Homo sapiens: one gene and its partner. The protein of the gene in region 1 interacts with the protein of each later gene in a pairwise test. Each region holds a gene or a part of one and is shown on either strand. Other genes may lie near its edges. The genes, in order: CD82 and BDKRB2.

Region 1 (3,812 bases):
TCAAGGAACTAGCCTCAGTTTCCTCATCTGTAAATGGGGATAATTAAAATCCCCAACTCACAGGGCTATCACAAGGACTAAATGGGATGAGGCAGGCAAAGTACCAAGCATAGGTGTGGGGAGCACAATAAGCTTAGGAAAGGCCGTTCAACTTTAGTGCAGGAGTTGAGATTTGCCTCTGAGCTTCCTGGTGAAAAGGAAAAAAAGTGAAAAGTGAAAAAGGAGACGGGGTCAATTCCGCCTTTTTTTTTTTTTTTTTTTTTTCTGAGACAGAGTCTTGCTCAGTCACCCAGGCTGGAGTGCAGCAGCGTGATCTTGGCTCACTGCAACCTCCACCTCCAGGGTTCAAACGATTCTCCTGCTTCAGCCTCCTGAGTAGCTGGGATTACAGGCACTCGCCATCACGCCCGGCTAATGTTTGTATTTTTAGTAGAGACGGGGTTTCACCATGTTGGCCAGGCTGGTCTTGACCTCCTGACCTCAAGTGATCCGCCCGCCTCGGCCTCCCAAAGTGCTGGGATTACAGGTGTGAGCCACCTTGGCTAGCTGGTCAATTCTGCCATTTTAAAGGAGAAAATGCTCTAGTTCTAGAGAGAAGAAAGCCTTTCCGGGCTCTGTGTGCTAAAGGAGGTCTCTGTGTGTGAATCCCCGCAATGCTGGGGGTTCCTGGGAGGATTCAATGGGATAGCCACGGTCACAGCAGGGGTCAGTTCCTGGACCGCTTCCTTCCTAGCTCCGAGGGGTGTCGCCTGACCAGTAGCCAGTGGCCAGCAGGGGGCGTGCCAGGCACACTCAGAAATGCTCAGCTCCAGGCAGTTTCTAATCCAGGTTTACAGGTGCTTGTTCCAGCAGCCGGGCTGCCTCCTCTCTCCAAGAAAAGGCTGGCACCTCTGAGGGGTGCACAGGTCTGCAAGGCTGGGGGCACCCACAGGCCATCCTACACCAGAGCAAAATGAGGCAGGTCTCCTTGGCCCGTCTACGACAGAGCCTCCTTCCAAGCAACCCCTTGGCCTGACTCCGGCTGTACCTGGTCCCCAGCAGCACACGCCACCTCCGCCTGTGTCTCCATGGATGTGCATGGTGACTAAAACATCACCACCAACATACCACATAATAAATGCTGCCTAAGTGCTTCAGGCTTTAACAATGTATCTCACACGGCATGGGTCAGTAGCCCCATTGTATAGATGAGGAAGCAGGCTCAGCAAAGGTCTAGCGGCTGTGGCAGTGTTAGCACTCCAGGCCTTGGGAGTCTGACTTACCACCGGCCTAAGCAGCATCTGACAGCATCAGAATCATCTAGAACCAGCCAATGACTTTCCAGGGTAGGATGCTTACCACCTCCCAAGGGACCCACTTCTCCTCCCAGGTCCCTTGTCAGGTGGCACTGGTTTATGTCACTGGTGACATCCAGACTTTGCTAAAATTAGCAAAGTCTCAGCAATTGTGGGTCAAACTACATATGCGACCAAAACATTTCCTTGTGTGCACCAAGCCTTCCAGCTGCCACAACCCCCACACCTGATCTCCTCGGTCAGGGCCAGAAAACATCGCTCTCCCCTTCCTCCACTGAGAAAATGGCCATGTCCATGTCACCTAGATGGAGTGTCCTCTCTGCAAACTCTCCTGGTGCCGCTGAGTCAGGCTTTCTCCTGCTGCCCATGCCCTTTGTACTCCACATCCCTCCCCTGAGGTGTCAACAGGCCCTAAGTGACCACTGTGTCCTGCGCCCTCACAGGATTGCAGATCAGAGATGTCAGGTCCCAGCCAAGGGCACATGCAGCATCCGGGACCACAAGAAAGGAGAGCCAGGTGGTCATTGGATCACTATTGAGACAGGCTGGGAACCTGGTCAGTCTATCTGTTGGTCAGTCGGTCAGTCCGTCCGTCCATCTGTCCACCCATCCATCCATCCATCTCTCTCACTTTAATGGAGGTATAATACACATGAACTAATGGGCACACATTCAGCTTGGTGCATTTTTACGTATGTGCACATACTGGCGAAACCAGTATCAAGATTTGGCTAAAATACTCCTTTTGCCCTAGAAGGCTCCCCAACACCTCCCCAGCTAGTGCCCTTCCCCAGAGGCAGCCTTCACTGGGACTTCTCAGCATATCAGCCTTGGCTCCCAGTTTCCTAAAACCCAGAGTGGAGCTCCCAACGCTCCCCAGTGTAGCTTGAGATAAGAGGGCTGACAACTGCCCCCATGCTCTCTGGCCACAAATGGGAGCACAGAGCTGTGAAGCTGCCTCTGAGTCTCTGGGCCCCCTGAGCAGGGAGTTGTGGTGCTAACTGGGGTGCCCTGCCCCCATAGAAGCACACTCTCCTACAAACTGTCAGGCACACACGAGCACTGCAGATGCCAGTCCCAGACATGTGGGTGCACAGAGCCCCAAATGCAGGGACACCCAGGCCAGAGAGCCTCCTGCAGCCCCGCCCCACCTCACCTGAGCCTGCACGTAGTCCCAGGCATCCTGCAGGCTGTCCTCGCGACTGCTGTTGTAGTCTCGAATGAGCTCAGTCACGATGCCGCCCATCTCCTGCTTCAGCTGCAGGGGGGAGGACAAAGGTCAGGGTCAGATTTCCTGAAACCCGTGCCCACCTGTGGTCACCCCTACTTAAACTGCCTCCCCCCGTTCCCCTCAGCAACCCTGGGACACGCTCATGGCTCCAGCCACTTTCCTGGCGCTCCCAGGGTGCCCGATGCAGGCAGTGCCAACCACTCCTGCCCCACTATCTCTTCTGCGCTTGGCAGCAGCCTGGCCCTGTAAACATCAATATTCTCATGTCACTGCTGAAAACCCCGTAGGGGCCTCCCACCTCCAGGGCAGTTCCCACCGTCATTGTCCCCATAACAGCCTAGGAGGTCCTACACCACTTGTCTGCCTCCCCAGGCCTTCTGTCCTCTGTTCTTCCTCCCTCTGCTTCAACTGACTAGATTTCTGTGCTGTCTTTGTGCCAGGCACACTCCTGCCTTGGGGCCTTTGCACCTGCTGTTCCCACCGCCTGGAATGCTCTTCCCCTAGACATTAACATGGCTCACCCTCTGCTTCCTTCAGGGCTCTGCTCCAATGTCACCTCCTCAGAAAGGCCTTACCAGACCACTCTACAAAATATCAGCCCTTCCCCATCCCCTCTCCCCCAACCAATCAACCACCCCTCCCCGGCCTCCCTTATCCCACAAGGGAAAGCATGCTGTATTTCTCTTTAGAGCACTGACGTTACATGCTTGTTGGTTTTCAGGGCTTATCATCTCTCTCCACTAGCACATCAGCTCCGTGGGGGCAGGGACCACATCTGGCACGCTCACTACAGGGTCCCCCGTGGCTAGCGCCAAGCCTGGCACAGAATAGTTGTGTGGGGTACGTGAATGCTGAATGCACACCTAACCACCATGGTCTGCCAGGCACCAGAGCCAGACCCATGCAACTTCTTGGTGAATCCTTACACCTCCCACAGGGCAGCTTCAGGGAGAAGGAGGGACAGGGAGGAAAGCCCAGCTCAGTTTCCTTCTTCCAAGGACCAGAGTGCAGCCTCTCCAAACAGGGCCCCCAAGACAGCAGGGTAGATGCCTGGAGGGGGCCCCAAGACTGAGGGACCTGGAACTTCGGTATCAACTATATGGTCAAAAGATCCTCCCTCTATGTAGTCATGGTGGTGGGTGCCCGTAATCCCAGCTACTCAGGAGGCTGAGGCAGGAGAATTGCTTGAACCCAGGAGATGGAGGTTACAGTGAGTCGAGATCGCACCACTGCACTCCAGCCTGGGCGACAGAGTAAGAGTCCATCTCAAAAAACAAAAAACAAAA
Region 2 (3,812 bases), on another chromosome or scaffold:
GGGAGCTGGGCTTCTGGAAACCCAGGTGCCGGGTGTTGCAGAGTGGCTGAAAGCTGGGATGTGGCAGATCCGTGGCTACATTCATGCACACACACACACCCACATACCCACACATGCACACACACACACACACCTGCACTCACACACTTGCACATGCATAGACCACAGCTTTCCACACCCTTCCTAGACAGGGGTCACTTGGTGTCCTGGAGAGAGTGTGAAGTCTGGAAGGGAAAGAGGGGGGATTAAGCCCCACCTCTAGCCATGGGACTGAGACAAGTCACCCCCACCCATCTGCGCCTTGTTTCCTCCTCTGTGAGGCAAGCACAGAGCCCATGCCTCCCTCCCTGGATGGGAGTGATGTGAAACTTGAAGAGGGGTAGAGACAAGGGTCGTCAATGGAAGCCCCTTGGGCAAAAAGGCCCTTTCAACTAGGGGCACAGAGGAGGCCCTGGGCTGAGAACTTGACAGCACCTTGTATTGGTAACCAGCCGGAGGGACTGGAAATACTCAGATGTGTCTGTCTCCCTTATTAGGTTCAAAGTCCCTCGAGACCCTGTCTCCATCACAGTGCTCCAGTCCAGACCCCTCCTCTGAGCTCCAGACCCTGCTGGACCCAACAGCCATCCCCATCCCCACCTGCCTGGAATTCTCCAAAGAACCTCCCCTTTAACAGTTCCAGCCTTTAACAGTTCCAGTCTAAACACATGACCTTTCTCCTCTAAATCAGCCCCCCATCTCTGCCTTTGCAGGAGATGGAAGCCATGACACCTGCCTCGCCCCTGTCCTCACCCCATCCATGTCCAATCAAGCACTAGGCATGTCAGGTTTACCCTCTAAACTCCTCTGGAATCCAGTCTCTCAGTCTCCATCATCCCAGGTCGAAGCTAATGGGCTAACTGGTCCTTGCTTCCACTCTACCCCCACTGCAGTCCTGACTTCCTGAGCAGCAGCCAGGGCCTAATCCATATTCACACCAAGCGCCTTCCTGACTGAGATATCCTCCTGCACCATCATCCCTCCACCCTGTTTAGTTCTGCTCACCCTCAGTGTTCTCATCAATAATCCACTCGCCCTCACAGGCGCGTTTGGGACCCCATGTTCTATGCTCTCACAGGACCTTTTGCTTGATTTTTCACTGTACTCAGGTCAGTTTGCAGTTATTAAGTGACTGAGCAATGTCTGGCTTCTCCAGTAGACTGTCAGCTCCTAGCCATTGTATCCCTAGCACCGCTGTGTGGGAGCACTTCACAAACGTCCATTGAGTCAGGGACTCAGCAGTCTCCATTTCTCCTCCCTGCTGGAGAATGCGTGTATTTTGCAATCCCCAGCCCCTGTGCCATCTAACCATCTTTTCTTCTCTGTTCAGCCCAGGTGTGGCCTCACTCACATCCCACTCTGAGTCCAAATGTTCTCTCCCTGGAAGATATCAATGTTTCTGTCTGTTCGTGAGGACTCCGTGCCCACCACGGCCTCTTTCAGGTGAGTCAAAGGGATTCCTCAGTTCACTAGTTAGGGGAGGTGGGCAGACACCCTGGAGAACTCCCTGGAAAGCTCAACTCTCATGCCCCGGACAACAGTTGAAGGAACCAGTGATGTTAAGCCCAAAGACAAAACCTCTCAGGTGTCCAAGTCCCTGTAGGCCTGTTGGGAGCAGAGGGAATGTTCTGCGGAACTAGAGGAAGAGGGGCTCAGGGAGAAGAAGGGCACATTCCTGGTTGTCATATGTGATCTATCCCAGATGAACTTGGAAGTGAAGGGAAGAGAGTTAAACATTAAAGTAAATACCCAGTGGATCAGACAGCAATGTGCCAGATTGCCTTGGAGACAAAATATCTCCAACACATGGCTGACATTTGGTGGGAGATCAGAACACCCTAAAGAGAGAATTTAAGGGGAGGGGGAGGAGGACCTGAGCCAGAGTAGAAGCAGAGGATAGGGAGATCTGTTCTTGGGGACAGCATTTGCAAGAAACAAGGCTGAGGGGTCCACTCCAACCTCTCCACCCTGCTGCAGGTGCTGCCTATGATGAAGATGAGCAGATGGCCATCTCAGCTGGGGCCACAGTGCACTGGACCTATAGTTTCCAATTCCGCACTCAGCAGGCATCTTTCTGATGATCCGATGGCTTCTCAGAGCCAGGGATGGGCCAGGATCCATCCCCTTGGCTACTGTCTTGCTGAGAAATTAATAAGCAGCATCTGGTGCTATACTTTGGTCTCTAGTGAGTTAGCTCATGAAAGATGACAGACTCTCCAAGCCAGGGGTATGCAGGAAATGGGTTTTCTGTAGCTACAGAAATGGGGTTGAGGGTTGGACCAAGGGGACTACCCAGGGGAAGTCTTACCTTCAGAGGACTCTGGAAAGGAGGCTGCAAGTTTTCATGGGTCAAGAATTCAGAGCCCAGTAGAGACAGCTTATCTCTGTTCCAAGATGTCTGGGGCCTTGGTTGGAAGATTCAAAGGCTAGGAAACCAGGAGCCACCAAAAGCGTAACTGGGGCCAGAGGATCCACTTTCAAGGTGGCAAGTTGGTTCCCCCCATGTGGCTGCTTGAGTATCCTCACATGGCGGCTCACATCCTTCCAAGTAAGCAATGCAAAAGGCCAAGAAAGATGCTGCAAAGCATGTTATGACCTAGCCTCAGAAATCACACACCATCCCTGCCACCATTAGTAAGAAGTCCAGCCCACGTCCAGGAGAAGAGGAAGCAGATTCCTCCTTTTGAAATGAAGAATATCAAGTAATTCGGGGGGCATATGAAAGCCACCACACACCACAGGGATCTTTTTAGAGCATACTTCTTATACCATCACTGTAGTTCCTTAAGACTCAGGGGCAAAGCCTCACTTCCTTAGCACCCAGTGAAGACCACGCTTACTCCCTCACTCAACCTCTTGCTACTTCCCACCTCTCCTGTCCAACATCTAGTGTCACTTTCCAGAACATACCAACAGCTTCCCCAGTTCTGTGCCTCTGCTCAGGCTGTTCCCCCTGCCTGGTCCACTTGTCCTCCTTCTTGTCCCGTCAAAATGCTTCTTATCCTTCAAGACCCAGCTCTAGAGTCACCTCCAACCCCTTACCCACCAGCCCCCTCTCCAAGTCTGTGTCCCACAACCCCCCTGCTCCCTCCAGGGCACCCTCCACCCTCTGGGCCACAGTTGTCAGGAGTCAGGCAGGGCAGGGGCCGGGTGGTGTCTTCTTTGTGTTCTTGCACTCAGGGCAGAGCTCAGCACAGAGCAGACGCTCAAAAAACATTTAAAGGATAGAAGCATTGATTTGTGGGTCCCCCAGTCTGGCTCCAGGATGCCAGCCAGCTGCTCCTAGAAGCAAACGGACTTTTCCTGGGAAATCCCAGAGGTGATGATCAGTATCTCTCCCGTGACTCGTAGTTCAGCTCTTCCTCCATGAGCCTGACTATCAGTGGACCTTCCAGAAAGAGCCCCTTTTCCTTCTCTCACCCACAGCACAGGGCACTGGGAAAATGCCCAATGAGTCCTGCCCTCTGGGTTGTGCTTTGGACTTTTCAGTGTGTCTTCGCATCCACTCTTCAGCTTGAATGTTGCAACAGCCATGAAAAAAGAAATGCAAAGCGATTCAGGATGAGAGCAATACCCTACTCCAAAGAAGGCAAAATAGAAGCTCAGAGAGGTCAAGCATTTTGCCCAAGACCACACAGCTAGGAGTGGAACTCATGGCTGTCCAAGCCCCACGCCTCTGCTGAAGGTAGAGATGAATTACAGCAACAAGTCTAGAAAGGTGCCTGCCCTATGGTCTGTGAGTCTTGCCTAAGAATGAAAGAGGAGCCAGTGGG

Evidence for each region.
Region 2: the proteins of CD82 (region 1) and BDKRB2 interact in a two-hybrid assay, tested with the Homo sapiens proteins (one large-scale study listed by BioGRID and IntAct).

The regions. Positions count from the first base shown.
Region 1 is NC_000011.10:44,614,013-44,617,824, reverse strand, and holds part of CD82 (CD82 antigen), read right to left. Parts: intron 2,554-3,812; coding exon 2,452-2,553; intron 1-2,451. UniProt on the Homo sapiens protein: Structural component of specialized membrane microdomains known as tetraspanin-enriched microdomains (TERMs), which act as platforms for receptor clustering and signaling.
Region 2 is NC_000014.9:96,235,700-96,239,511, forward strand, and holds part of BDKRB2 (B2 bradykinin receptor), read left to right. Parts: intron 1-1,369; 5' UTR 1,370-1,408; coding exon 1,409-1,482; intron 1,483-3,812. UniProt on the Homo sapiens protein: Receptor for bradykinin. It is associated with G proteins that activate a phosphatidylinositol-calcium second messenger system.